Linked DNA regions of Homo sapiens: region 2 is linked to region 1. The links come from fine-mapping of genetic effects on gene expression. Tissue or cell type: whole blood. Region 1 holds a variant in brackets; the other region holds the start of a gene. All regions are shown on one strand. Distances are between the middles of the regions. Region 1 holds the start of TIRAP (TIR domain containing adaptor protein). Region 2 holds the start of RPUSD4 (RNA pseudouridine synthase D4).

Region 1 (15,785 bases):
GTTACTTTTTCCCAGATTACTCTGGTTTTGTTTGGTGTGCCACCAGAAGTCGCTGTGTGGTTCTTTGCTTTGTGTACATGAGCACATCTCTTGCCCAAATAGAATTCAGTTTATCCCAGGCATAAATGCTGAAATTTTAAGAAGAGCTGTGTGCCCCCTTTGGTTCTGGAAACCCCATGTACAGCCAGCAAAAATGGCCTTGGACCACAGCCTTCCTGTTCCCAGCAAGCCTCCACAGGCTCCAAGATGGCAGACAGAGTCCTTCTTAGATCCTAGGTGGTAGGCACTTGCTTGTAAGCAAGTGCCTCCCATTCCTGAGTTCCTGCAGGGAGTTTGGTTGTAAAGAAGAGGGATGGGTTTGTCCATCTATTCTACCAAAATTTATTCAGCCCAGCTGTTGGCCAGGGTCAGGGTCACATGTTGAGATACACCAGCAAGCAAAACATAGTCATGTCTTTGCTGGAACTTTCATAGCCCTGCACCTCCTAGCCCTTCACCCCTAGATCAGATACAGTGTGACCCCCACAGTGCTGGCATAAGCACACAACACAGACACCTCACCCAGGGTGGGACTAAGAGGGTGGCAAAGGGGTTTCTCCATGAAGCTCCTCGAGGGAAGTTGACCTCTGAGCTGAACCTAAAGGATGGGCATTTAGTGAAGTGAATGCAAGGTGGCTAAGGGAGGATCCAGGCTGAGGGCAAACCATATGTAAAGGTCCAGAGACAAGAATTAATACGATTCAGGGATTTGTCCTAGTCCACTTGGGCAGCTATCACAACATATCCTAGACTGGGTAATTTATAAATAATAGAGATGTATTGCTCACAGTTCTAGACACTGGGAAGTCCAAGATCAAGGCACCAGCAGATTCAATGTCTAGTAAAGGCCTGCTTTCTGCTTCGAAGATGGTGCTTTCTCACTGCATCCTCACATGGCAGAAGGGGTAAGGCAACTTCTTTCAACCTCTTCTAAGAACACTCGTCCCTTTCATGAGGGTAGAGTCCACATGACTTAATCACGTCCCCAAAAGCCCCGCCTCTTAACACTATCACATTGGGTATCAGGTTCCAACATAGGACTTTAGGGAGGACACCAACATTCAGACCACAGCAGGATTCAGTGTGACTGTTTCTGCCTGGATCGTGGAGTGCGAGAAGAGGAACTAGAGCCACTGAGGGGTTTTAAACAGGAGCAACACGATCGGATTTTCCTTTTAGAAGAATCACCTGGGTGACCCTGTGGAGAGCAGATGAGGATGTCAAGGCAGGCAGCAAGGAGGCCAGATGGAGGCTGTGGTTGCAGTCTGTGTGGCAGGGACAGGGAGTGCCTGAACCATCATGGCAAGAATCAGATGGATCCCAGGGTGACGCCAGCAACAAGAAGTGGGTTAAGTCGCATGGCCAGGTTTCTGGATGGAGGTTCTACCCCTCCCAGAGATGAGGAGCACCAGGGAGGAGCGGAGTGAGGGACAGAGTGAATGGTGCAGTCTGGGATGTGGTGAATGAGGGTACCTGTAGGACATCCCTCAAATAGGGGGTTGGGCTGATTGGCATGGTCCTTGGGGGATGATCTGGGCTGTAGATAGTGATGTGGACATCATGGAACAGGATGGCATCACCCCAGAGGGTAGAGTAGGGGGCCAAGGAGGGAAGCTGGAGGGACCCCACCAACATTTAAGGGACAGACCAGAGAAGGGGACACTGAAGAGGTGCCCACAGAGACAGGAGAAAAGCCAGGAGAGTGTGGTGTCGTGAAGCTAAGGAGGAAGTGATCACGGTGCCTGCTGGATTCGGTCCCAAGTAGGTCAGTGGTGGCCTCACTCGAGAAGAGCAGTTTCAGTGGAATTTAAGGTCTGGACACTTGCACAGGAGAAGTGAATGGGAATAGAAACAGCTGGTAAACTGCCCACTCCGCCTTGAAAGTGGCCTTTGGGATCGGGCGCGGTGGCTCACAGTTGTAATCCCAGGACTCTGGGAGGCCGAGGTGGGAAGATCGCTTGAGCCTACGAGTTCGAGACCAGCTTGGGCAACATGGCAAAATCCTGTCTCTACAAAAAATACAAAAATTAGCCAAGCGTGGTGGCATGCACCTGTAGTCCCAGCTATTAATACGTGGGAGGCTGAGGCAGGAGGATCACTTGAGCCTTGGAGGTTGAGGCTGCAGTGAGCTGTGAGGCACCACTGCACTCCAGCCTGGGTGAAGGAGTAAGACCCTATCTCAAAAACAAAAAACGACAACAGAAAAAGTGGCCTTTGTGGAGAAGGATGAAAGGGAGGGAAGAAATGATGGAGGTGGGCTTTACTAATGGCAGGGGAGGAGATGTGCTACCAGTGAGGTAACAGCAGAAGCCCCTGAGGTTGGGGTGAGGGGGCCAGGCCTAAGGCGGAAGCCAGAAGAGGAAGAAGGCGGTGCTGAAAGACAGGAAGGAACTTGCCAGGGATACGCAGGAGGGACAAGCTGACATCCGGGTTGACCCTGTGAAGTTCCCCTAGGTGCCAGCCAGTTGCTCCCTTCAGCACGGACATTCCAATCTCAGGGCAAAAGGGAAAAGGCCTTCAAGTGTTTCTCACCCAGAAGCTGCTCCCTTCCACACACTGAGTACTATGTTTATTAAGAAGCACTGAGGCCTGTAATCCCAGCACTTTGGGAGGCGGAGGTGGGCAGATCACCTCAGGTCAGGAGTTCGAGACCAGCCTGACCAACACGGAGAACTCCTGTCTCTAGTAAAAATACAAAATTAGCCGGGCATGGTGGCGTGTGCCTGTAATTCCAGCTACTCAGGAGGCAGAGGCAGGAGAATTGCTTGAACCCTGGAGGCGGAGGTTGCAGTGAGCTGAGATTGCGCCATTGCACTCCAGCCTGGGCAACAAGAGTGAAACTCCATCTCAAAAAAAAAAAAAAAGCACTGAGCAACTCTCCTGTCCTCCCACAGGGCTGTACTTCAAGCTGTGGGCAAGCCCTTACCATCGCCTCCGTGCATCTGTCTTCCCCCCTGAGCTGTGCAGAGCTGGGACCAAGCCTTCTTCATCCTTGCCTGACACTCAGCTGCCCCAACACTTGGCCCATACTTGGCGCCGTCAAGGCCTGTTTATCTGAGTGTTCCTCGAGTGTCCTTCTGCTCTGGCTGGAGCCTGAAGAACCATCCCTGGCCTCGGGGAATTTTTACTCTAAAGTGGGAGATAAGCAGCAGAGCACAGGCTCTTTACAATGAAAAGCACTATGGCCTTTGAGGGATGGAGGTGGGAAGGGCTGGGTTAAGCAAAGCTTTCCTGAATAAGCTGCAAAAATGGGCCTTGATCCCTTTGTAGCTCATAAGCAAGATGACTGGGTGTTCACGCACATGTGTGAGGTGTGCCTCCCTTAAACCTTGTTAAGGGTTGTTACCCGTGTGATGGGAAAAAAAAGAAAAAGGAAACAAAAAAACCCCAAAAATAGGCCTTGCTAGAAGAAGGGCGTTTTGCAGAGCGGAGCTGGGGAAAAGGAGGGCCCTGGGCGGAGGTGTACTTGGTAGAGTCAGGTAGAGTCAAAGCAAACTGGGCATTTGGGTGCAGTGCCAAGTGCCTGATCTACTTTATGTAGACTAATCCTTGCAAGAACACCAGCAACCAGATACCATAATGTGATGAAGGAAGCAAGCCTAGAAAAGTTGCGTGACTTCACCAAGGCCACACAACTAGTAAGCGATGAGCGCTGGTTGTGAACCCAGGCAGTTGACTCCAGAGCCCTCCCAGGATGGGCAGCTCATCCGCTTTGGCGGGCTGGTGAGAAAAGGAGGAAATCAAATTGGAGGGGGAGATCATGAATCTTACATGGCCTAATTAAACTACCTCCACTCTCCAGCATTTCGTGCACATAGTTTTAGGATAGGGTTTCCCAAACTGGCATGGCCTGGAGCAAGACGCTCAGGAAGACATTCACATTTCTTGTAGAGTGAAACAAGTGTGGGGAATGCTCCGTTCCCTTCTCCCCAAGGTGCTTCACAGCGCTCACGAACATCTGAAGAGCTCTCAGAAGTGGGAGGCAAAGGCATCTCTTTCACCCAGGACTTCCAGCATCTTGCCTACACCACGCTGTTTGCAGCGGCTCTGCAGCATACTGCAGCGCTGTTCATAACGCCCATGTGGGATCACCGCTTAGAGAAGCAAAGAAAGCACTTTGGCAGAAGACGGGGTTTCCACCCTCCTCGGCATCAACCAGTGTCTGGGACGGGAACTGGCGGCCGCTGCGGCCTGGCTTCCCAGCTGCCGCCCGGGTCTGCCCCTCCCACACTGCAGCCCCGTACACCCCTCGCTGTGTGTGACCTTTGGAAAAGTTCCATCTCTCCAAGCTTCATGTTTCTCATTTGTATAAAAGGAAAAAGGTATGAACACCCCCCTTGCAGGGTGTTAGGAAGATTAAATGGGCGGAATAGGGTGTTTTTTTTTCCTTCTCCCCCGCCTAGAACAAAACCCAGGTTTCAGGTTGTCACGGTGGGCGCCGGGGGACCCTGGCCACGGGCTCCTCTCCGAGTTGCTGCGGACCGCCCCAACGCAAGCGGAGAGGACGGGAGCCCGGAGTCATGCAGAAGCCAGGCTGGCAGGGGCTCGGGCCGCAGTGGACACAGGGGCTGCCCCGTCCCGCGTCTCCCGCAGCCGGATTGTGCCCGAGAGTCTCCCGGGTCTGGACTGGGCCTGGCGGCGTGGGAGGGGCAGTGCGGCGGGCGGCGCTTCCGGAGAGCGGGGCCTGCGCGCTGCTCTTCCCCGCGGAGCCCGCGCAGTCCGCGCAGCCCTCATCGCAACTGGGCCCGCGCGCAGGTGAGCCCGGGGCGGGGTCGCGGGGGACCGGGAGGCGCGGCGGGGCTCCGTGGGGTGGGCGACGGAGCGCGGCCGGCCTGGGCCCCAGAGTCCCGGCCCCACCGAGAGCCGCAGGGGTGCGCGCCGCCTCTGGTCCGGCCTTGCCCTGCTGGCGGCACATCCGCTTCCCTTCTTCACCTTTCTGGCACCCGCAACACGCAAGCGGCATGAAAGGGCCCTCCGAGGAGAATGTCACCTTTTCTGTCGCAAAGAAGCTCGCGCGGGGCGGCTCCCCTTTCGCTTGCCTCGCTGGAAGAGCCTGGCGCTCAGTGCGTTGTGGATATCGTTTCTCCTCACGTTCTTCTCTGCTCCGGTCACAGCCTCTTCCTCTGCTCTTCGGGTTGTCATTGTGGCAGTGATTCAGCAAGTGCATAACATTAGTTAGGGTCAGGGACCTATCGAGGCATTACACCACAGTCATGGGCAGCTACACACGGGCTGGGCAGCCACTGTGCCAACGACTAGGGTGACCGCGGTGGACCAGACAGATCCAGTCTTCTGGTCCCCAGGGGACAGACAGGTACGCTAGAATCACAGCATACCCTAGAAGTGCAACAGAGAGGGGGAAGTGTGGAGAACTCCCGTTGAAACACCAAACCTAGGGGACACCAGGATCAGGAATGACTCAGAGGGAACCACATCTAGTTAGTTTTTAGATTTAAAAGAGTTGATACGTAGGCACACAAATCCTAAGTGTACAGCTCAACCATTTTCCACAACACGCACATTTCCTGATTCAGAGCAATCAATAAAACATGACTACATCCCTGGCTTCTAACGCCATAAAATAGGTTTGCCTGTTTTGGATTTTCCATCCATGGAATCATATATCATGTACTTCTTTTTTTTTTTTTTTTTTTTGAGATGGAGTTTCGCCTTTGTCCTCTGGGCTGGAGTGCAGTGGCGCAATCTCGGTTCACTGCAGCCTCCGCCTTGTGGGTTCAAGCGATTCTCCTGCCTCCTCCCGAGTAGCTGGGATTACAGGCGCCTGCCACCACGCCCGGCTAATTGTTGCATTTTCAGTAGCGACGGGGTTTCGCCATATTGGCCAGGGTGGTCTCGAACTCCTGAACTCAGGTGATCCGCCTGCCTCAGCCTTCCAGAGTGCTGGGATTACAGGCGTGAACCACTGCGCCCAGCCCTTCATGTACTCTTACGTGTGTGACGTCTGACATTCAGTATGTTTTGTGATATTCACCCATGTTTAGTTAGCAGTTTATTCTTGTTGGTATATAATATTCCATTGTATGGCTAGACCACAATTTATTTATCCATTCTACTGGACACGGGTTGATGGACAGTCGTTTCCACTGTGGGGTTATTTTGTATCTTGCTGCTACAGACATTCTTGTGAATGTCTTTTGGTAAACATCTGTAAGCAGGCGGGGAACAGTGGCTCACACCTGTAATCCCAGCACTTTGGGAGGCTGAGGCAGGCAGATTACGAGGTCAGGAGTTCGAGACCAGCCTAGTCAATATGGTGAAACCCCGTCTCTACTAAAAATACAAAAATCAGCCAGGCGTGATGGCGGGTGTCGGTAGTCCCAGCTATTTGGGAGGTTGAGGCAGGAGAATCGCTTGAACGTGGGAGGCAGAGGTTGCAGGGAGCCGAGATTATGCCACTGCACTCCAGCCCGGGCGACAGAGGGAGACTCCGTCTCAAAAAAAAAAAAAAAAATATGTAAGCACTGCTGTTTGAGTATATTCGTAGGACTGAAATTGCTGATGTGTGTATGCTCATCTTAGTCTATGGCCAAACACTTCTCCACCGGCAGTGTTCGAGTTCCCATCCCTGCACACTCTTACCACTACTTGATAGTCTTTTTCTCTGTAGCCATTTGGCTGAGTGCCCAGCAGTGATGCATTGAGGTTTTAGTTTGCATTTCTCTGATGACTAATGAACTGTTTTGATGTCTATTGCTCATTTGAATATTCCTTTTGTGAAGTGCCTGCTCAATTCTTCTGCTCATTTTTCTGTCGTCTTACTAGTTCCATTGAGTCCTTGAAATATTTGTGATATAAGACATTTATTGGATATATGTGTGTGTGTGTATATATATATATATATAATATATATTTTATTTGATTTTTGAGACGGAGTCTCTGTCACCCAGGCTGCAGTGCAATGGCGCAGTCTCAGCTCACTGCAACCTCCGTCTCCCAGGTTCAAGCGATTCTCCTGCTTTAGCCTCCCGAGTAGCTGGGATTACAGGCACCTGCCACCACACCCAGCTAATTTTTGTATTTTTAGTAGAGATGGGGTTTCACCATGTTGGCCAGGCTGATCTTGAACTCCTGACCTAGTTATCCGCCCGCCTCGGCCTCCCAAAGTGCCGGGATTACAGGTGTGAGCCACTGTGCCCAGCCCTGGATATATATTTTTAAACATTTTAACCCTCGGGAGATTGCCTTTTCACTCTCCTATTTATGTCTTTTGATGAACAGAAGTTCTTCATTCTAATGTTTTTTATTTTATCATTTTTTCCCCTTATAGTTGTATTATTTGAGTCTGGTTTTTAAAAAATCTTCCCTAGCAAGAAGACTCAGATAAAAGTAAAATTAAAGCTGGGCATGGTGGCTCATGCCTGTAATCCCAGCACTTTGGGAGGCTGAGGTGGGCGGATCACTTGAGGCCACGAGTTAGGAGACCAGCTTGGCCAACAAAGCAAGATCCTGTCTGTACCAAGAAAAATTAAAAAATGAAAAAAATAAATTAGGTAGGTGTGGTGGCTCACGTCTTTAATTCCAGCTACTCTAGAGGTTGAGATGGAAGACTGCTTGAGCCTTGGAGGTTGAGGCTGCAGTGAGCTGTAATCACAACACTGCACTCCAGCCTGGGTGACAGAGCAAGACCCTCTCTGGAAAAAAAAAAAAAAAAAAAAAAAAGGTCGGGTGTGGTGGCTCATGCCTGTATGTAATCCCAGCACTTTGGGAGGTTGAGGTGGGCCAATCACTTGAGGTCATGAGTTCCAGACCAGCCTGGTCAACATGGTAAAACCTCGTGTCTACTAAAAATACAAAAATTAGCTGGATGTGGTGGCGAGCACCTGTAGTCCCAGCTACTCAGGAGGCTGAGGCACAAGAATCACTTGAACCCAGGAGGCAGAGGTTGCAGTGAGCTGAGATTGTGCCACTGCACTCCAGCCTGGGTAATGGAATGAGTCTGTCTGAAAAAAAAAGAAAGTCATGGGTCCTTCTCACAGTCCCAGGTGTGAACACAGGGGGCCACCCTAGGTCTGCACCATAGTCTACAAACCTCTTTGAGAACACTGTGTTGTGTCTATCAAGCTATAAATGAATTATATTCAGGACTTTAAGTGACATTGTCCTGCAAACCATAATTAATCCTACCCAAACGTTTTAGCAAGTGTTTGAGAACAAAACAGCCTTTGAAACCAAAATTCTTTTAAATGTAAAGTCAAAGTCAGGTGAAGTATAGATGGTAATTTATTTATTTAAAGATGTAAAAACTGTTTCAAACAATTTGAACCTTTAAACAGACCAGGTTTTAGCACTCAACTGAAATCCAATACTTTCTCCATTCATTGGCCTGATCTAATCAGACACAGTGTAGTAGTTTCCTATTGCTGCTGTAACAAATTGCCACAAACTTAGTGGCCTCAAACAACACACATTGATTATCCTGCCGTTCTAAGATGGGTCAGCAAGGCCGTGCTCCTTCTGAAGGCTCCAGGAAAGAACCCATGGACTTGCCTTTTCCAGCTTCTAGAGGCCACCTGCATCCCACTGCCGCCTGCTTCCCTTGGCACAGCTCTTTCGTCTGCCTCAGACCTTCCTGCCTCCCTCTTGAAAGGATCTTTGTGGTTACATTAAACTCACCTGGGTAATCCAGGAATCCCTCCCCATCACAAGGTTCTTAATCACAGCTGC[C/T]GAATCCCCTTTTGCCACGGAAGGTAACATATTCTCAGTTCCGGGGATTAGGATGTGGGCCTCTTTGTGGGCCACTATTCTGTCTACCCCAGATAGTGATTCCTGCTTAACAGAAATCGAATATGAACTCTAAGAGATACATATTCTAATTATATGCCTTCACAGGCTCCAGTACATTCCCTATATAATAGAAATTGGAGACCAGTTTGATATTGGATACTAAATACACTTTGGATTTTTTTTTTTTTATTTTTGAGACTTGAGTCTTGCTCTGTTGCCCAGGCTGGAGTGCAGTGGCATGATCTCGGCTCACTGCAACCTCCACCTCCCGGGTTCAAGTGATTCTCCTGCCTCAGCCTCCTGAGCAGCTGGGATTACAGGCACGCACCACCACGCTTAGCTAATTTTTGTATTTTTAGTAGAGACAGGGTTTCACCATGTTGGCCAGGCTGATCTCAAATTCCTGACCTCATGATCCGCCCACCTCGGCCTCCCAAAGTGCTGGGATTACAGGCATGAGCCACTGTGCCCAGCCCACTTTGGATTTTATACAGCAAAACTCCATAATGTTTCCTTTACATCAGTTTCTGCACATAATATTGGAAAAGCATTCTAGAAAGCACTAAAGGTATTGTGCTACTTCTTTTCTGAAGAAATTCTTTACTAATTTTCTTTTCTTTATTTTTTTGAGATCGAGTCTCGCTCTGTCACCCAGGCTGGAGCACAGTGGTGCAATCTCGGCTCACTGCAACCTCTGCCTCCCAGGTTCAAGGGATTATCCAGCCTCAGCCACCCAAGTAGCTAGGATTACAGGTGTGCGACACCATGCCTGGCTAATTTTTGTATTTTTAGTAGAGACAGGGTTTCGACCTGTCGGCCAGGCTGGTCTTGAACTCCTGAGCTCACATGATCTGCCCACCTCGGCCTCCCAAAGTGCTGGGATTACAGGGGAGCACCAGCACACCCGGCTAAATTTTGTATTTTTAGTAGAGAAGGGGTTTTGACAGGCTGGTCTGGAACTCCTGAGCTCACATGATCTGCCCACCTCGGCCTCCCAAAGTGCTGGGATTACAGGCATGAGCCACTGAGCCCGTTCCCTTTACTAATTTTCTATCAAGTCATAGTTCTTACAAAGTGGGTATTTTTGGTATGATTCTACTTTATGAATTTTTTCAAAGCACAAAGAAAGCGACTGCGTATTAGACCACACAGCAAATCAGAGAATAGGCAGAGCTAGTGAGTAGAGCTTCCAGTTGGAGATTTGGGTTCATTACCTTACCTACTTGTCAACCACATCTCAAGATATGATGACAGTTACCAGGTCTTGGAAAGATTAACACGTGTTTGAATATGTGACAGTTCCACAGCTCCAGCTACAAAAGAACTGAAAAGGAACAGGGAAGGTGCATGGCGTCTTGGATTCCAGGAAGTAGGCAGTGTGTATGGTTACTGGAATTTACCTGCCATCTTGCTCAATTATCCTGTCAAAGGTGCTGTTATTTTTCTCTTTAAAACGTTTCCATGTTTCTCATGAGGGCTTATACCACCGCACTTCTGGTGGCATATACTGCTGGACAACTGGATTTCTTCTTAACCAAGCAATGGAAAAGCAATTTCCCCCAATTAGCATGCGTTGCCAAAAGGGCAAGTCATTTCATAAAATGAGAAACTGAAACTTTAAAATCTACATATATTAAGTAGATTAACATATTATGTTAATTTTTAACCTTTAGAATATTTACAAATCAAATGATGCTCTAGTTTACAAGTGCACCAAGGCCAAATAATTAATATTAAAATTAAAACAGAATTGAAAAAATATTTAAAAAATGCAAAAACCAAGTGACATCATGTTTACTACTGGGGGCAAAAAGGCATCCTGAACGGCCCTAGCTGCAGCCTACCACTTAGGCTGTCTGAAATCCCAAGCATATTAGGAAAGAAAAGAAACTCATATACATACTCATAGTCAACGTCCAGTGCCGTTTTGGTGGCTTCACATTTAGCTGTGTTGCTTTTTCAGATGTCTTCTCTGGTTCCTGTACCCATTCCAACCCTTTGCTCTGCCTCCTTTGCTGCTATGGTTTAAGTTCTACTTCTTTTTTGAACTTTGATATATGATCACAAATCCTCAGCATCCCTTGTCTTCTACGCATCAGTGAACAAAGCATTAATGTGCAGCATAGAATGACATTCTTTAATTTTTTTTATTGAGATGGAGTTTCGCTCTTGTTGCCCAGGCTGGAGTGCAGTGGTATAATCTCAGCTCACTGCAACCTCCGCCTCCAGGTTCAAGAGATTCTTCTGCCTCAGCCTCCCAAGTAGCTGGGATTATAGGCGCCTGCCACCATGCCCAGCTAATTTTTGTATTTTCAGTAGAGACAGGGGTTTTACCATGTTGGCCAGGCTAGGCTTGAACTCCTGACTTCAGGTGATCCGCCGCCTTGGCCTCCCAAAATGCTAGGATTACAGGCGTGAGCCATTGTGCCTGGCCACATTCTTTAAATTTTGAAACCTTTTATTTTAGTGTGTCTAATAATACTTGCTTCCATGAGTTCTCAGGTTTGTTTTGATCTCACAGATCCACCAAAGAGAAAGCAGCCCTGTGCCAGTTGCTCTGCCAGCCTTTCACAGGAGAAGTGTCACTAGAATACTACAGCCCCCACAGGCTCTGCTCCACAGAAACTTAAGGCTGAAAGAGTGTCCGCCATCAGGGACATCCTCTGTCACTACGGTGGGAAAAGAACATGGCAGGTTGCCTTTCTAAGGGATTCTTGGGCCTTTGTATTTCCATATAAATTTAGAAGCAGTCTGACAACCTCCCCACCAAAAAACCTAAAAAACAAAAATCTTCTAGACTTTGGAACAGCACTGAATTAATGATCAGTTTGGGAAACGTTAACATTACAAGTTTAATAAACCATGAACATAATATACCCCTCCAATATCTAGATTATTTTATATACATAGTAGCCCACATTTTCTAAGCATTTATTACATGCCAGGCACCATTAGGACTTTACATAAATGATTTCATTTAATCTTCACAATAATGCTGAGAAGGAGGCTCTAGTACTTCCATTTCACGGATGGAGAAACGAGTTTAGCAAGGTGGCCAAAGGTCACGGTTAACCAGAGATGAGAATCAGGCACTCTACCTGCAGTCTGCAGTCTGTACCACTTTTTGACATGACCTTCCTGAGCTGACGGCTGCAGGGGCGATGGGTCTATGGATGGAGTTATTCAGGGGGAGGCAGACTTGGAGGAAAAGTCTCCCAAGATTTCCTGCATGTGCTCTCTCTCTACTGTTCAGCTTCTGTCTATCTGGATACATAATTATTTGTCCAAATAGCAACTGTCCTTCTTCTGCCATTTCAGGCCTTACATAGGAAGTCCTTCTAAAGAGCTGCCTGCCAGCTGCCCTTCCCCAGATCCCGAATATCCTCCTGGCCAGGTGGAGCAGAGAACAGTTCCTCAGCTGGTCATGCTGAGCTCATACCCTGTAAGTCTGACCACACTACACAGCTTTGGCTTTATCTAGAATCCAGCTCCAATCACAGTCGTGTCTGGCCCTAATCTCATGAGGAATGAAAGACCCATTTAGAGAAGAAGCCTCTGTCAGGCATTAGGAGAGAAACAGAACTTCGCAGAGCTCATCCATGGGGAATGAGAGCAGGGTAAGTGCAGCCTTTGTGATTCTCTCTCTCTACCCTCTGTAGGATGGCTGCTCCATGAGGTCAAGACTGGGTCTCCTCCCTCCTCCCCCTTCACCAATGCCTGGTCTCACGGGGCTAGTTTTGACCCCCACGCTATGGCATCATCGACCTCCCTCCCAGCTCCTGGCTCTCGGCCTAAGAAGCCTCTAGGCAAGATGGCTGGTGAGTGGAACCGGACTCGCGACTCTGCTGTGTTCCTGAGTGTAGTGCTCAGCCTCCATAGGGCGCGGTGGGAGGCCTGCCTGGTCCAAACTCAGAGAGACGCAGGAAGGCTGACGTGGGGAACTCCTGACCTGAATTCAGGGCCTGGATGCTTTGTGGAGAGTGAGGAGGGGAGGCCTGCGTCAGCTCAGCCAGATCTTTATCCTTTTGGCTCAAAGGTTTTCCAGGCCTGCTCAGCTAGCTTTCCTAGCCTGGAAACCACTGTGCTGAGTGCTTAACACTGTCTCTTGTCGTCCAAATCTTTGTTCCAGAACCATTTAGAGGAGAAGCCAAGCAGAGAGAGAAAATGAATCAATCCCCACCACAACTATCTGTCCTTATCAAAGGCTGGGGAAGCTGTTTTCATCTCCTTATGGAGTCCCATACTCCAAACACAGACCTGAGCAGTGTTTCTCCCCCACAGACTGGTTCAGGCAGACCCTGCTGAAGAAGCCCAAGAAGAGGCCCGGCTCCCTGACATACCTGACACTGCATTATCTCAGTTAACTTTCAGCAACTAAGACAGGTCCACAAGTCCACAGTCAAAGCCGTGTCCCTGACTCCAGAGTGTGGGTTCTGAATCACGAAGCTCTCTGCTCCTCAGCAACTCTGAGCAGTAGCCTCTTCCCCATTTAGCGACAATCTAGGATTTCTTGGGGCCAAACAGATGCCAGTCCTCCGTACCCCTTCCTTCCTGTATACGTAGCCCTTCCTAATCTAAGTCCACCTCCCCTCAGTGCTGAAAGTGGGCTTTGGGACTGATGGATCCTTGCTAGCATAACGTAGCTCTGCCTGCAGACTCCCGGTGGTTGACTAGTCAGCTCTAGTGGGAAGTTCTGCTTAAGGTGGGCTGGGCTGGGGGTACCAGATATCAAAGGGCCTGGAGTAGTGCAAGGCCATTTCTCTTAACCAGGCTGGTGGAACACTCTCACATAAGGATTCCAGAGTTCTGACACGTCCAAAACCTTTACCTTTAGAGGGCACTTTTAGGCAAGTCCCAAAAGATAAACAAAAATAGCAGAGTGCTGGGCACAGTGGCTCACGCCTGTAATCCCAGCACTTTGGGAGGCTGAGGCGGGCAGATCATGAGGTCAGAAGTTCAAGACCAGCCTGACCAACATGGTGAAACCCCGTCTCTACTAAAAATACAAAAATTAGCCAGGTGTGGTGGTGCATGCCTGTAATCCCAGCTACTCAGGAGGCTGAGGCAGGAGAATCGCTTGAACCTGGGAGGCAGAAGTTGCAGTGAGCCAAGATCGCACCACTGTACTCCAGCCTGGGTGAGAGTGAGACTCTGCCTCAAAAAAAAAAAAAAAAAATAGTGGAGCAACAGGTCTCTGAGAATAAGATGTTTCCCAGTGCAGGGAGGTGGGCTGCAGTCTGTCTGTCCTCCCTGTGAGGTGGGGCTCCTCCCTGTGTGGGCAGTGAGAGGGCACCTGGTAACACACAGGCCTGAGCAGTGTTTCTCCCCCACAGACTGGTTCAGGCAGACCCTGCTGAAGAAGCCCAAGAAGAGGCCCAACTCCCCAGAAAGCACCTCCAGCGATGCTTCACAGCCTACCTCACAGGACAGCCCACTACCCCCAAGCCTCAGCTCAGTCACGTCTCCCAGCCTGCCACCCACACATGCGAGTGACAGTGGCAGTAGTCGCTGGAGCAAAGACTATGACGTCTGCGTGTGCCACAGTGAGGAAGACCTGGTGGCCGCCCAGGACCTGGTCTCCTACTTGGAAGGCAGCACTGCCAGCCTGCGCTGCTTCCTGCAACTCCGGGATGCAACCCCAGGCGGCGCTATAGTGTCCGAGCTGTGCCAGGCACTGAGCAGTAGTCACTGCCGGGTGCTGCTCATCACGCCGGGCTTCCTTCAGGACCCCTGGTGCAAGTACCAGATGCTGCAGGCCCTGACCGAGGCTCCAGGGGCCGAGGGCTGCACCATCCCCCTGCTGTCGGGCCTCAGCAGAGCTGCCTACCCACCTGAGCTCCGATTCATGTACTACGTCGATGGCAGGGGCCCTGATGGTGGCTTTCGTCAAGTCAAAGAAGCTGTCATGCGTTGTAAGCTACTACAGGAGGGAGAAGGGGAACGGGATTCAGCTACAGTATCTGATCTACTTTGACTTTTAGGAGACAGCCCTGTAGCCTAGTAGTTCAAAGCGCAGCTTCTGGAAAAGGCTGTCGGGGTTTGTATCCTGGCTCCTGCACTTATTAACCCATAAAAAGTAACTTGGCCAAGTTACTCACCCGCTCTGTGCCTTGGTTTCCTCACTGACCAACAGGTTTCCATTGCTATGAAATGAGAACAGTATATACACGAAGGGCTCAGAACATGGCCTAGCACATGTATTCATAACAGGCAGCGCCTAGCACAAATCAGGTCCTCAAGTTAATAGCTAGTAGTAGTAACAGTAATAGCATTAGGTTTCTCTGAGATCAGGCTGGAGATGTCCATCAAGAGCTGGGAAGGTGCCAGGAGGGACATTGGTTTAGTAAGGCAAAATGATGCAAAATAATAGGAAAGAAGTGCATATAAGTGTATCTGGGGAGGGCCATGCTATTGCAGTAGGTTTGGAAGTGTAATAGATAAAAAGATAGAAGAGGCAGGACCTGTTGGGGAAAACAGATGCTGGGTTTGGGAGGTGTGACAACGCTGTGATTGGTCTCTTTCAGATCTGCAGACACTCAGTTGACACTTGTTATATCATGGGACCCCGGAAATTGGAGTGAAGCTAGAAACAGAAAACCCATGCAGGGCCTCGGATTCCCACAAATGTGACAAGAGGTATAGGGAGTGAGTCACAGCGCTTTGCTCGTGACCCTGGGATCAGAGCACCCATCAGGCTTCCATTACTGTGGGCTCCCTAAGAAGACCATGGAGAGCTTGGGGACTCCCCCAGGAAGGCCGTGAAGCTGGGGATTCCCCCTAGGAAAGCCATGAGGAAGCTGGGGACTCCCCAAGAAGGCCATGAGGAAGCCAGAAATTGGAGGTGGTAGGAAGTGGTACTGATCAATGATGGCCAGCAGGACTCATCTCCTGCCTAACTGGACAGGAAGCCTGGCACCCACTTCTGTCTTCCCCTGGAACTGGGCACTGGCGTACACTGGTATCCCTCCTAAAGAAGTGACTCACCTGACTGATCAGCAAGA
Region 2 (15,785 bases), 72 kb before region 1:
AAATCACTTCTGTTGGTGTTCTCCCTCCCATGACCTCATGACCTCACAGACAGGTAGAAGACTGTTTAATCTGTCTGTAAATTTATGCCTCTTTCAGGTCAATGATGGAAAAGTCCATCTGGGTACCTGGTGGTCGGTTGTATAATCACTAACCACGGGGTCAAAATCCTACTCACACACACTATTTCACAACGCAGACACTCCACTTCAGTTTCAGCTACTATCTGGTACATTTTATCGTATTTTACAGATTTTGTAGATCTTCTGTGACAAGAATGTCCTTCCTAATGATATGACACTACAACTCAAGAATGTTCCATCAGCAAGACCCAACTGATTGATTTCAATTCCTCCATGAACCTGATACCGAGAATGGTTACCAATTTTGAACCTTAATGGACATTTTTCACAAATAACATAACATGTATTTTATAGTCTTAATATTTTGATTGCTTGAATAGAAAAATAAGTCTCTATTTTTTATTTTTTAACTTTTCCTATGAACTAGGTACTGTGTTAAACATTTCACAAGAATCAATCTTATTTAACTATCTCATAAATCCTACTGTTTCCATTTTTCAGATGAAGAAAACAAAGCTTATGGACATTTAATAACCTGCCCAAGGCCCCACAGCTGTTAAATGACACAGTTGAGAGTTGAACACACATCTTTTTGAGGTCTTAGCTACTGTCCTAAATTCCTCCATTCTCCATAATCTTATCATAGTTCTTAAATTTGATTGTATATCAAATTTTAAAATACAGATGCCAATCCCCACAACCACCACACTTACGAATGAGAACTTCTGTGGGTAAGTCTCAATCATACATATTTTTAAAGGGCTCCTCAGATTCACAAAGTATCTGCAAAATCTGTAATCTAAAAAGGACTAACATTCAAAATATAAAATGAATACTTACAAATCAAATAGAAAAGAATAAACAACCTGGGCCAGACACAGTGGCTCACGCCTGTGAGCTGTAAGCGCTGTAATCCTAGCACTTTGATGGACAGATCACTTTAGGTCAGGGGTTCAAGACCAGCCTGGCCAACAGGCTGAAACCCCATCTCTACTAAAAATACAAAAATTAGCTGGGCATGGTGGCATGTGCCTGTAATTCCAGCTAGCTGAAACATGAGAACCACTTGAACCAGGGAGGAGGTTGCAGTGAGCCAAGATTGTGCCACTGCCCTCCAGCCTGGGTGACACAGCAAGACTCCATCTCAAAAAAAAAAGGCCAGGCACGGTCTTAAATAAAAAAAAATAATAATAATAAACAACCCTGTAGAAAAATAGGCAAAAGAAATAATCAGTCTGTTCCCAAAAGGGAAACTCAAATAGCCAATAAACATGTAAAAAACATGTAAATTGATAGCCAATATCACTGTTATACAAGGAAATAGAAAATATCTTTTTTTTTTTTAACTTATCACAGTGGCAAACCCTTTAAAAATGCTTTGGCTGATAAGGGGAGGTGGGTACTCACCACTGCTGGTGGGAATGTAAACTGATAAAAAACCTTTGTGGAGAGCAATGTGAGTACTATTAAAATTTAAATATACAAACCATTCAGCCCAGCGATTCAATTTTTAGAAATTTATCTTAAAAATACATTCACATATTCTTTGCAATAGGCTCTAAAAAATGAGAAATTACCTAAATATCCATCCATACAGCGGTATTTCACAGAGCAATTAAAAAGGAGACAGCTCTAAACGTATGACACAAAATGCTCTAAGATATATGATCCAAGTGAAAACTGTAGGGTACAAAACTCTGTGTGAAATACACTAGCATACAGTAATATGCTTATATATGCTCGATAACTCTGGAAGTTTACAGAAGACACCAGTCACAGCGATTGACGCTGGGGAAGGCAACTGCACAGATGGGGAATAGAGGGTTTCTTTTTTGCTCACGCATCTTTTTTCTATGAAAAACACTGAGGTAAACCTCTATGTGCTAACACAGGATGATCCCCAAGACATAGAGGTGAGCAGAGGAAAAAAGTATAATGTAAATTGTACAATGTGATATATATATAGATATATATGTGTACATACATATGTACACATGCATATACTGCATACACCAGACACGCATATACTGCGTACACCAGACACGCATATTCTGCGTATGCCGGACACGCGTATACTGCGTACGCCGCACACGCGTATACTGTATACACTAGACATATATGTAAATGCGTTGAGTAAGAACCAGAGGAAAAAAAACCAAACTGATTACATGGGTTGTTACCTCAAGAGAAAACACTAGAATGGCAGAATGGGTGGATTCTCCAGGAGTTTTTCACATGATCTTTGTTGTTTGACTATTTTTAGCATGGGAATAAAATCATATATTACTTGTATAATTAATTAATTTTTTTTTCTTTAGAGACAGGATCTCACTCTGTCACCCAGGCTGGAGTGCAGTGGTGTGATCATAGCTCACTGTAACCTCAAACTCCTGGGCTCAAGTGATCCTCCCACCCTGGCCTCCCAAGTAGCTGGGACTACAGGTATGTGCCACTATACCGGACTAACTTCTTACTTTTTATAGAGAAAAGGTGTCACTATGTTGCCCAGGCTGTTCTCCGACTCTTGGCCTAAAGTGATCCTCCCACCTCTGCCTCTCAAAGTGCTGTGATTACAGGCGTGAGCCACCATGTCCACCCCATGCTTGTATAATTAATTTTTGATAATTTTGATGTATACCAGAATTAAGAACCACTGTTCTATCAGACTTAATATTCTAAGCACCAAAGCTGTTTCACATATTTTTTACAATCTCGCAGGTCATAGTGCAGTGCCTTCTATTAATGGGAGTTTCTGTTTTTAATGAATAAATAGGTGAAAGAAATGCCTCCACTTATACCACCTCTACTGCCATCAGCAGGCCTCATACCAGTACTTCTTCACCACCTGACGGGTTCTAAACAACTCTTGGACTTGATGTGCCATGTCCTTGTCCCAAGCCAACACCATTACACCTGTGGTTTCCTTGTCCAGCCGGTGGCACAGATGCAAGGGCTCTGCCTTGTGGCCATGAAGCATCTTTGCCAGGATAGGTAGTACATCAGTGATGCAGAGCTGGACCCCAGGGCCACCTAAGAAGGAAAAAGCCAAAGGTTTGAGCGGCCAGGAAAAGATCTCGCCAAAGAACTCTCCTTGGGAGAAAAGCCCTTAATGGATAAACTGTCAATATTTTCTAGAGCCTTACTACTGAAGTGTGGTCCAGAGACTAGCAACAATGGCATGTCTAGGGAGCTTATTAGAAGTGAATCTCAGGCTCTCAACCTAGACTACTCAGTCAGAATCTGCATTTTACAAGCTGCCCAAGTGATTCAGAAGCATATTAAAGTTTGAGAAACACCATTCTAGAGCATGTGGCTTCCTCTCAGACATACTTTGAAAAACCATGAGGCCTTCGAGAAGCATTAAATAAGAGTGATTAGGAGGATAGACTTCGGGGTTAGACATTCCTGGGGTTCTACTCTACTCTTCTTACTAGCCATTTTTTTGACCTTGGACACATTACTTCTCTTTCCAACTTTGCTTTCTCGTTATAAAATGTAAATATCTGGAAAACAACTTCATTGGGGAATGGAAAGGCAAAAAACTGTTGCGAAAATAAAGAGAGAAAAAAATTATACAAACACTTGGTGATGTGATTTAATTCCTTGTCTTTGTGAACAACTATCTCCGTATCTCCCCAAAAAGCATTACCTTCTTCTAGCTAAAATGGGCCTTTTCCCTCTTTCACAAATGCATTTTTTAAATCAATCTTTCCTGATTCACTTCAGCTGTCCCTGACAACTACATGCAACATCTGTTGAAAGACATTTGAAGGTCCACTAAATTCCAGTCACTCTGGGGTTGTATGTTACATATACTCCAACATACATACACACACACACACACACACACACACACACCCCCTTTTTTCTTATGTATCATTTTCTCATTCCCAGTTCTGATGGAAGATAACCTTTAGTCTAGAACCACACAGCCTTTGTATATCTCTACAGCGATCCCTGTAGTCTGCACACAGCGTATTCTACGAATTGCTTACTGTCAGATGTTTAGAAAGGGAGGACTGTCTTATTTATTTATTTCTGTGTTCTCGGTGGTTCCTTATATTGGACGGTAGTTTACAAAAGTTTAATTAATTTGAATGCAAGGCTTTAGAGTGCACCACAAGTAACGTCTCAGTTTTCCTCGGTTGTAGCAGAAAGCAGCTGCAGGTTCCTCCACCTTTCCCGCGTGGTCCTTACCATGCACAGGGAGACCGTAGGGCTTATTGATGACCACAAGGTTCTTGTCCTGGTGGAGAATTCCTCGGGTCAGTGCCTTAGCAAGCACGTTGGGGTGGACTCGCTGCAGCTGCCGTGTGAACCGCACTATTTCTTGCACTCTCCGCTGAACAGCGTTTGTGGACACCTAGGGAGAAAGAAGGAGCCGTGGGGAATGCCTGGTGCGGAAGCCGTGGAGAAGACCTTCCATAAAGGTCTGGGTGAGAATCTGAGTAGGGAATGACTATCTTTGCATCAGACCCGCGCCGCCTTCGACTAATTTGAGAGCAGAGATACCCATCTGTCTAACCTGCGTACCGACGCAGTGGTTAGGACTGAGCCTGACAGTAGCCAAAGATCCAGCTCACGGGAAAACACCGTACCCTTACTGACCCCTCCCCTCCGCCTTCTCCCCATTCTCCCACCTTGCGTCCGGGCTATTGACTCACACGCTTTCACTCAGAGGACCCTCCTACCTACTCCCCGTCTGGGAAACCAATGAGCGCACTGCCTCTAGGGAGTTCTGGTCCCTTTGGACTCACCGGCTCCTTCTTTGTGTCTTGTTCCCGTTTCTGGGCTCGGAGCTTCTCCGCTAATCTCTGGGCATTTATGGCCGTAGAGGCAGCGGCAGCGGCACAAAATGGCTTTGAGACGAGAGTGAAGAGACTCCCGCAACCTTGGCCGTTTCCCCGGATCCAGGGGCCCGACGCGCTCCACCTGGGCGCCGCCATCTTACAAGGAAGGGCGGGGCGAGCCAAGACCACGTGGAGAAGGGCGACTACAATGAGGCGGGAGTGGGTGGGCCCTGCAGGTCACGTGGTGCGGGGTGGGGCCTGGGCGAGTCACGTGGGGACGGTGCGCGCTCAGTGCGGCTGCGCCGGCCGGTAGCTGCAGCTGGAGCAGTGGCGTTTGGAGGAGACTCGGTGAGTGTGTAGGGAAGCCGGGCTGGGGCTGGGAAATGCCGGTGCCTCAACGGTTTAACGTTTTCTGCGTCCCCGGGATTTCCGTTCAAGAAGAGCACTGGTCTGAGAAACGTTTCTCCTTTTGGTACACGATCCCACTCAAAAACTCCTCCCCGCCCCCGCGCCCCCTTAGGAGCGATGTCCCATAAACGCTCGCCCCAGAGCCCTCCTAGGCACCGACGCCGTCCCTCTTAGCCACTGAATCTCCGGTGATCCGCCAGTCCCCTGCGGGACGCGTCGGGGACCCTCTTGATCGGATGCCCGGATCTCTGTAGTCTCTCCACCCTTCATCTTCCAACTCCCAGCCTCTTTGTTTCGCGTTGTAACCTGTACCCTTCTCCTAAGGATGACGGCCCCTTCCCTTATCCAGGGCCCCCAGCACCTATTTCCTACTTAGGAAGCACTGTGAGTGTTTTTTCTGCCCTTCCTCAAGAATTCATTTCTTGGGGGTCTCCTCCCTACCTTCCCTACTCCTCCTAAAGAAAAAGCTGAAAGAACGGAGCACAGACCTTCACTTTTCCTGTTTCCTTTATTTTTCCTCTCCATAGTTTGCAACCACACCATACCTCCTCTCACGAGATGCGATGTTGGGATTCCCTTGCCCGAACTGCAGGCGACTCCCTCTGATTTCACTCAGGGGTGGCTGGGAAGATAAACATCTGTTTGGGATGGTAGTGTTAAAAATAACTTGGGATATACCTGCCATTTGTTAAGAGGAAAGCTTATGCTGAGTTCAGAAAGAATGTCCTGAAAACTAATGGATCTGTGACGATAGAAGGAACAATTTTTTAAGACTGCTTGGAATGAAGGCTGCCTGAGGAGTTATTAGAGAATAGGTAGTTGAATTAGATTTGGGTTCTACACCTCCTAAAGGGTTTGGCAGAAGGGAGCCGTACCAACAAGAAACAAAGTTGATCAGGTGGAGCTACTCATAGAAGACTCAAGTTGAAGAGTTTGAACTAGAGGTGATACGTAGTGAGGAGTCTTTGAAGCTTTTCGAGTAGGGCAGAGAGACTCCTTGAAAGTGGAATTCTGGAAATGAATCTGGCAGTTGAATGCAGGACAGATGGGGAAGGAAAGGGTTTGATAGTGGGGAAGGAAAGGGTTTGATAGTAGGAAAACTAGTTACAATCTAGGTGGTCAGTGATGAGGTCTGGTCTTTTCCCCCTACACTGTAACTCCTTTGAGTTTGAATTAATTGAGTTATGCAGGTCAAGGCGTACTCTTGGCAGCTGCTGTTGATCTGTGAGTCCCTGGAAGAATTTTTTTTTTTAATCCACTCACCTGGCACATAGTAAACTCGATATCTGTTAGATGGCTGAAGTGCATCATAAATGTATGCTAGGTGTGTCTGAACATTTTGAATTGTCTTATTTCTGTCAATGTTTGGCCTGAAGAATGAAGGTAGAGGAAGATGTATTTGTAAAGTGGGAAAGAAGCAAGGCTTGTGTACGTTTCTCTTATAAGGCAGGTGTAAATGCAGATCCAGATACAAATGCAAAGATTTCCAAGGGAGATTGGGAAACATCTGTTTCTCCTGTTCCCCACCCACCCCCTGCAAATTTACCAGTAAGACAGAGGTCTATAAAAGTTGAGAAATTCCACCCTAAAAGAATTATTACCTTCCATGCTCCAGACCTAGGTTCTAATTTCACTTGAACATCACATATTACTTAGATACTTGAAGCTCAATTTTCCAAGGACCCTGAAGTTTTGACATCGGGACTTAAATTCATATCATTACATTAATTAAAAACTTGTTTTGGGTACAGGACTTTTATGGTTTTGTGTCGGGGATGGGAGAGGCTGTTTCTACCCTAACCTTATGGCATTCAAGAAACTACACCTGTTCTTGCAGAGTTGGCCTTCTGTGGCGGGAAACAAAATGAAGAACCAACTCAAATGTCATTGCTAGTGACACAGAGCTTATGCTCTAGGGTTTCAGGTTAACTCAAAGCACACACTTAGTGACTTAAGAATAAAAATATTGGTCCCTTTTTTCTGGAGAAGGAACTTTTAGGTTTGTCTTGTTGAAACTTTGTAGAGAAATTTAAAGAATTCAAAGTTTTTGTTTGGTATGACAGTGCAGCTTTAGCCAGTATGGGTACATAAGTTATGACATCCTTAATGTTTCTCCGGTGAGTCTAGGCACTTGGTGATTTAAAGTAGAGTTGTTCTCAGTATAAAGAATTTATGTGGCCGGGCGCGGTGGCCCACGCCTGTAATCCCAGCACTTTGGGAGGCTGAGGCGGGCAGATCACGAGGTCAGGAGATCGAGACCATCCTGGCTAACATGGTGAAACCCCCGTCTCTACTAAAAATACAAAAAAAAAATTAGCCAGGCGCGGTGGCAGGCGCCTGTAATCCCAGCTACTCGGGAGGCTGAGGCGGGAGAATGGCGTGAACCCGGGAGGCGGAGCTTGCAGTGAGCCGAGATCGCATCACTGCACTCCAGTCTGGGCAACACAGCAAGACTCCATCTCAAAAAAAAAAAAAAGAATTTATGCAAATGTCATGTCTTTTTTTTTTTTTTTTTTCCAATTTTCAAAGAGCAATAATCACCCCTCAGATAAACCTCATTGGCTGCAATACTGCCACTGCAAAAAACTCTTTTGTTTCTGTTTTTTTTTTTTGTTTTTTTTTTGTTTTTTTTTTTTTACCTCTATATTGCCTCCTCCCTGTTCCTCATTCAGCTGGTCCTTTTTTAGGCAGTTCACTTTTCCACTTCTGCGCCAATGTCACAGTCCATTTGTTGGGAACTCCTCTTGTCTAAATGTTTTCTTAGAACAAGGAAGGAAATTCTATTAGTGATTTCTTCATTCTTGCAGACTACGGCTCTGTTCAAACATGACTTATTTACATTGATTTTGATATATCATAATATGTGCCCCTAAAGTAACCATATAAAGAAGAACTTGATAGTTTCTTTTTAAAGATATTTCCTAGTCTATTCAGGAACAAAAAGGCTGCATTAGTATTTCGCAAATATAAACAAACAAGGACTAACTAATAAAGGAACTTGCGTTTATCACAAATTTAAGGTTAATTAGTGGTATAAAGTTAAGTTACGCCTCCTCAAACTGTGATTTGCTAGTTGCAGATTAACCAGCGATTCCATTTCCTTGAAGAGCAGGAAGTACTTGGACATTGTTTTATGGTTTTAGAGAGATTAAAGGAGGCAATTAGCAGGAACTCTTGGGAGGTGCCCTGGAAAGTACAGTCATTGGGAGCCAGGAGATGTGGGACTAGTTCCAGTTCAGCCGCTGCGTACTTGAACAAATAATTTGGGCTTCAGTTTTTTGTCATTTGAAAGATTTTTGCAACTCTGTTTCTAGTCTATGAAGATTTTCCACTGATACTGAAATACTTCTCTTTCAGCCCGAATTAGTGGGATTTATTTCAGATTTATCTTGAATACATTTAGCATTGATACTAAGAAACTGGATTCTGCTCTTGTCCCCAGAATTTAACTTTTTGCCACTGAGCTAATGTTTATGTTTGGAGGTTACTTCATTGAGTGGTGTTGGAATATACTTTTAAGATTTCTGGCCAGGCGCGGTGGCTTACGCCTGTAACCCTAGCACTTTGGGAGGCCGAGGTGGGCGGATCACGAGATCAGGAGATGGAGAGCATCCTGGCTAACACGGTGAAACCCTGTCTCTACTAAAAATACAAAAATTAGCTGGGCGTGGTGGCAGGCACCTGTAGTCCCAGCTACTCGGGAGGCTGAGGCAGGAGAGTGGCGTGAACCCAGGAGGCAGAGCTTGCAGTGAGCCAAGATCGCGCCACTGCATTCCAGCCTGGGTGAAAGTATGAGACTCCGTCTCAAAAAAAAAAAAAAAAAAAATGTCCTAAATGGGGGTGGGGTGCATGGCTCACACCTTAATCCCAGCACTTTGGGAGGCCTAGCGGGGAGGATCTTTTGAGCCTAGGAGTTTGAGATCGCCTGGGCAACATAGCAAGACCTCGTCTCTACAGAAAATCACAAAATTAGCTGGGCATGGTGACGCACCTATGGTCCTAACTAACCCTTGAGGCTGAGGTGGGAGGATCATTTGAGCCCGGGAATTCAAGGCTGCAGCTGCAGTGAACCATGATTGCAGTACTGCACTCCAGCCTGGGTGACAGAGACAGACCCATCTCAAAAAAGAAAAAGTAATTTGTGTAATACAGTTTAAAAGTCAAATAGTAATAAAAGATTTGGAATTAAAAAACAGTTTCTCAGGCCAGGTCCAGTGGCTCATACCTGTAATCCCAGCACTTTGGGAGGCTGAGGCAGGTGGATTGCCTGAGGTCAGGAGTTCAAGACCAGCCTGGCCAACATGGTGAAACCCAATCTCTACTAAAAATACTAAAATTAGCTGAGCATGGTGGTGTGTGCCTGTAATCCCAGCTACTTGGGAGGCTGAGGTAGGAGAATCGCTGGAACTGGAGAGATGGAGGTTGCGGTGAGTCGAGGTCGCACCATTGCACTCCAGCCTAGGTGACAGAGCGAGACTCTGTCACCAAAAAAAAACCCAACAAAACAAAAACCGTTTCTCTGCCCTCCCTACCTCAAAGTCCCATTCTTTAGAGGCAACCACTCAGTTGTTTTCCTCTTTTCCTCTGTCTTTACAGTAAGTGGTCAACACCATCAGTATTCTTGAAACATGATATAACAAAACCAGTTTTACCATATGGTTTCTATGGCGTTTTTCTGGTCACAAAAACATACCCAATTTCTAAATAAAGACCCAAACATTTCTAATATGAAACACTGAAACAAGTAAGATTTTCACCCACTTTTTGGTGAGTCAGTGAGTTACTGCAGTCATAGTGGTGGTGGGTTAAATCAAGGAATAAATGTGTGCAAAGTGAAAATTGTCAGAAGCATTTCCTACCACCATACTCATTTCCAAAGCAATCAATCACCAATAGGGCAGGCTCACTGAGAGCTATTGTACCACATCATTTATTGTTGTGCATTTGGATGATTACCATAGACTTTGCAGATTTTTATTTGCTGGTAATTTGTATTCATTCATTTATTTTCCAGCTTAGGCTCACAGGTGGCTGGAGCCTATGCTGGCAGCTCAGGGCACAAGGCAGGCGCCAGCCCTGGACAGGACGCTGTCTATGCCATAGGGTGTGCATGCACACACACACAAACACAGGGACCATCTAGACACACCAGCTAACCTAGCAGGCACATCTTTGAGACGTGGGAGGAAAGCAGAATACCTGGAGAAAACCCACACAGACATGGGGAGCATGCCAACTCCACACAAACGGGTAGCCTCAGCCAGGAATCACTTATTCTCTCATCAATGTTATGAAAAAACGATGTTGAACAAAAAGACTTTTTTTGAGAGTCTGCTGTATCTTCTTGTTGCTAAATAGTTGGTTTGTTATTCTTTCTTGGTTTTCCCCTCATGTTTGGCCTGTTGATTTCTTGTTGTGATAGATTTGTATTTAGCTCTTGCATCCCACCACTTTCCTATTTTTCCATGCCCTCTATCCCCTAATATAGTTCTATTGTAATTTTTTGCTAAAACAGGTAGCTTTTATGTACTTACACCTCTGTCAAATACTGTTCACTGTTGAGCTGGATGATCTATTACAGTGTGTTCCTCCTGGTGTGTAGGTTGGCCTTCACCTGTGTTTTTCATGTACCTACTGTTAATTTTTTTCCCACATGCTCCAATGTATTTGTCACATTCTTATCAGTAACATTTTCTGTGAGCTCAAATGTATCACCTGTTTATTGGAGCCCTGCCCCCTCCTCCTGCCTTTACTGTTGCTCTCAAGAACTGCTGCCTGGGGTCCTCCTGGACCTGCCCTTTCCTGTGCAGGAACCGTATCTTCCTCTTTCTGGGCTTATGTCTTTATTTTTTAAAAGCATATACTTCAGTTATTTCTAAGAAGTATTTGAATGACCTGGTTTTGCCCACACACTTGTTTGATAGTTTGGCAGTTATATAATTCTAGATTGGAAATAAGGTTCTCTCAGAATGTTGAAGGCATCTGTAATTGCTCTAGAGATGTGGTGATTTAAATCCTTCTTACGTGACCGTATTTTGTTTGTTTTCTCCCCTTCTGGAAGCTTTGAGGATATTCTCTATCTCTGGTGTTCTGCAGTTTTATGATGTGTATTAACACCAGGGTATGGGTCTTTTACTCAGCTGTTGTGCTGGCTTCTCACAGACGGTTTTGATTCTGGAAATTCACGTCCTCTAGTTCCGGGATGTTTTCTTGTACTATTTCTGTGATTTTTTGCTCAATCTTTAATTTTTCTTTGATACCTTTTTGTAATATCCATTCTTGTTATGTGGATATGGTGGGCTCAGAGGGCCCGCTGGAGTATTTGAGTTTTCTTCCTCTCTGCACAGGCTCCACTTCCTTCAGGTGATGTGGGCCTTTGCACCTGTGCCTCTGTCTGGATGTGTCTTCCCTCAGATATCCAGCGACTTGCTCCCACACCTCACTTTGGATGAATCCACAAGTCTTTCCTTAAATGTCACCTCAGTGAAGAGAGCACTGGATTGAGAAGTGCAGACCCCCATCTCACTTCCCTGCTTTGTTTCTCTCCAGAAGCATTTCCCACCATCTAGCATCCCACATATTTATTTACTTGTTTCCCTCACCACTAAAATAAACATTCTATGAGGGCAGGGATTTTGGGTTTTTTTTTGTTTACCTCTATAATTCCAGCCTCTGAAACAGTGCCTGGCGATGAATAGATGCTTAATAACTTAAGGAATAAATGAATTATTTTATTGTGGGATTTCTTTGAATGTCTCATGATTCTGACTGTTCATTTCTGTTTTGTTTTTTGTTATTTTAAGTTCCCAGCGTGGGTCTTGTTGGGTGGTGGCCATTACTATAGGGTGGCTGGTATATATGGATTTTGTGTGTATGTTTGTACAAATGTATATGTTTGCTAATATTTCTTTAGCTGACAGTGCATTGGTTGCTGGGACAAGGATGGAGGCTTGGAGAACCTTTTAGTATGCATCTTTTGACATAATCTGTATTTTCAGTTCTTCATTGCTCCTGCTGATGTATTTTACTCCAGACCCATTTCAGATTTCGGTTCATTTTTCTTTAAACCTCTGGATTTGGGGGTGGAGAAAATAGATGAAAATAGGAGGTGAGGAAGAGAATTTGCGCATTAGTTAAATAGACTTTATGCCAATCCGTATTTTCAGATCTGCATTTAAAGCTTGCTTTCCATCTCCAAAAATTCATTGAAAAATTGAATGCTTATCTCCTGCACCTCACATTCTTGGTTTTATACCTTGAAAAAAGAAAAACTCCTCTGTTGCCATTTTAATAGCGTACTTTGAAAAAGATTAAGAAGTAAACACGTAAGGACAGAAGTTATCATGTTTTATATTCTTAGTGTCATGGAATGCAGCACAGGAATATCACATAAGGAAAAGCACAGATTTCTTGTTTTCCTCGTTTATTTTGGAAGCTTATCCTTCAGCTCTTGTTTATCTTTTTTTTTTTTTTTTTTTTTTTTTTTTTTTTTTTTTTTTGAGAGTCTCTCTCTGTTGCCCAGACTGGAGTGGGCATGATCATGACTCACTGCAGCCTCGACCTCCTGGGTTCAAGCAATCCTCCCACCTCAGCCTCCCAAGTAGCTGGGACCATAGGCATATGCCACCACATCTGGCTAAGTTTTTTATTTTTGTAGAGACAGGGTCTCCCTATTGTTTATATGCCTTAAGAGTCAAATTAACAGAGTACATAAGAAACACTCTCTTTTTAGCTCTCTTGCTAAGGAGCAGGTTTGAGATCTGTTGCCAGAACTTAGTACTTCGCAGTTTTATGGATTCCTCAGGAGTCTCGTCCATGGGGCTGGGGCGTGGCTACCCTCTGCTGACTCTTCCTAGGTTCCTGCTCTTCCCCAGCACCTCCCTACCCCCAGCCACTAGAAATAGACTGCTTCTTTCTTTCTTCTACTGCAGAAAACATGCACTACTGTACTTATTAAAATTAACTTAAAAAAAAAAAAAAAGCAGCTCGAGCTGCTTGAGTTTTTTTTTTAAGTTAATTTTAATAAGACATTGAAGGAAGAATTTTTTTTAAAGGGGGGGCTTATATGTATGGAGATTTATGGTGTGAAAGCAGGGGCAAACTCTAATGAATGAAGTTTTTAGAATTGATATGAACATGAACCCAAGATACTCAGACTTATTCCGAGAGTTCCTCTTAAAAACTGCTTTTCTCCACATAAATCCGAATGTCAGCAGTGGTTAGCTCCACGTTGGAGGAAGGGGGGCTTCATTTTGCTCTTTCTGCATATTTCCTGCAGTGATCTGTTACTTTCAAATCTGGGGGAAAGGTGCTCTCTTTTTCTGAATGAAGTCTCCACCTGCCTCCCTTGGGCCCAGGCTGCCCAGCTTTCTGGCTGCTCCCTGAGAGTCCTCCTTGGTCTTCCACTGACCTCCTTCACTTCCTTATGAAAGTATGTTTTTAGTCTCCCTAACCTGCTTTCTGTTTTCTCTCTCTCTCTTTTTTTTTTAATACCCTCAATTGTTTTCACTGGCCACTTTTTTTTTAAGACTGATGCTTGGCTGGGCTTGGTGGCCCATGCCTGTAATCCCAACACTTTGGGAGGCCAGGGCAAGAGGATTGCTTGACAAGGCCAGGAGTTCAAGATCAGCCTGGTCAACATAGCAAGAGCCCATCTCTACAACAAAATTTAAAAATTAGCCAGGTGTGGTGGTGCGCACCTGTAGTCCCAGCTGCTTAGGAGGCTGAGATAGGAGGATCCCTTGAGCCCCAGAGTTTGATGCTGCAGTGAACCATGATCTTGCCGTCCTGGGGAACAGAGCAAGACTGTCTCAAACAAAAAAGACTGATGCTACCTGCTTGGCAAAACCATGTTTTTAGAGCTATTTCTCCTAAGAAACCTGGTCTTTGTAGTTGTTCTGATGGCTTCTGTGACAAATAATGCCTTTTTTTTTTTAAGAGCTTTCAGATTCTTATTTCAGATCTAAACAGTGCTTTTCAGCTCTCAGTTCATCTTCAGATCAAAGAGAATAGTAGGCCGGGCGCAGTGGCTCATGCCTGTAATCCCACCACTTTGAGAGGCCAAGGCATGTGGATCGCTTGAGGCCAGGAGTTTGAAACCAGCCTGGCCAACATAGTGAAACCCTGTCTTTACTAAAAATACAAAAATTAGCCAAACATGGTGGCGTGGGCCTGTAATCCCAGCTACTTGGGAGCCTGAGGCAGGAGAATAGCTTGAACCCGGGAGGCAGAGGCTGCAGTGAGCTGAGATCAAGCCACTGCACTCCAGCCTGGGTGACAGAGTAAGACTCCATCTCAAAGAAAAACAATATTAATTTTTGGCTAATTTTTATTAGGAAAAAGAGAATATCCTGAAAAGAATATCATGCTAGTTTAAGGTTACAGATTTACTTTCTTCCCTGGGTTCCCTTTGGTTCATATTCTCTTGTTTAGAAATGATCCAAATACATTATTCTGAAGTATATGACAGTTTTTCCAAAATCAGTAAATACATATGTTGGTGCTTAAAACAGAAAGAAAGAAATAATGGCCTATAAATATTATCACATAGCTTATTTCTACTATTCAGAGATCTGTATAACTTAGGATAAGGAGCAGGTTGTTGAACGGTTTTTTGGTTTTTAAGTTTGAAGTACAGTCTGAAAGTACCTTTCAATATTGAAGGGCTGCCTGACTGAAACTTACATGGCTATCTCCTGGGCCTGAAGCACCACCGAGATCTGAACTGAAGGTAGCGTTTTGGGAGTCCTTAGCGTTTAGTTGGTATTTTAATATCTAGGGGTGAATGGGGTGGGAAGGGAAGGGAGTATGTAAAGGGAATAGACTGGAGAGCCCTGCGGATCCTCAGCATTTAGGAAACAGGGAAGACCTCCCACTAGAGGGGAGGGAGGAAAACCAGGAAAAGGCAAGATGGACTTCAGTGTTGGGTGTTTCAGGAGGCAGAGGAGGATAAACACCAACAATTTCATTGAATTTTGCCATAAGGGTATTTATCTCCCATAAAGCTTTCCTTGATTTTCCTCAAGCAGAAGTGCTCATCTCCTTGGTACCTCATCCAGGCATGTGAAACTTGGCACAAACATGTTGTAAAGGTTTGTTTATAGTTCTGTTTCTCCAAAGGTGTAGACTTGTTAAGAGTGTGGCCCACGGCTTGTTCGTTTTTGTGAGATGGTATTGTTTTGTGTCTTAACAACATGAACACTGACTCCATGTCTAATGTGTAATAGTCGTGTGACCTTTAACAAGCTGCTTAACATCTGTGTGCTTCTGTTTCATTGTCTATACCATTTATGATATGAGATGATAATAGCATCTACCTCACAGAAGAGCAGATATTTGTGAAGTGTGGAAAACAGTGCCTGGCTTACTGTCAATGCTATGTAGTGTTTGGTGGAGGAGAACTGGATGCAGCAATACTAATATTCTTAGCACAGTGCTGGATGTTTAACAGATATTTGAACGTGAAGATGTAGTAACCTGTGATGAATTCAGTTCCTAGCATTTTAA

What was found.
Region 2: it holds the start of RPUSD4, and the variant in region 1 is fine-mapped to the expression of RPUSD4 in whole blood (INTERVAL, PIP 0.91).

What each region holds. Positions count from the first base shown.
Region 1 is chr11:126,278,360-126,294,144 of GRCh38, forward strand. TIRAP (TIR domain containing adaptor protein) reads left to right here and starts at 4,734. Exons shown (of 5, transcript NM_001318777.2): 1 at 4,734-4,794; 2 at 12,103-12,226; 3 at 12,444-12,602; 4 at 14,118-14,696; 5 at 15,309-15,785. The coding sequence starts at 12,536. The coding sequence ends at 15,328. It also overlaps the pseudogene RPL35AP26 and the pseudogene LOC124902838. RefSeq lists enhancers at 4,473-5,280, 6,749-6,828, 14,449-14,953 and a silencer at 4,497-4,906. The variant C/T (reference allele first, on the strand shown) is at 8,725.
Region 2 is chr11:126,206,612-126,222,396 of GRCh38, forward strand. It overlaps RPUSD4 (RNA pseudouridine synthase D4), which reads right to left and starts at 5,039. Exons shown (of 7, transcript NM_032795.3): 1 at 4,839-5,039; 2 at 4,279-4,444; 3 at 2,910-3,111. The coding sequence starts at 5,027. It overlaps FAM118B (family with sequence similarity 118 member B), which reads left to right and starts at 5,171. Exons shown (of 9, transcript NM_024556.4): 1 at 5,171-5,219. It also overlaps the pseudogene RNU4-86P. RefSeq lists an enhancer at 4,824-5,053.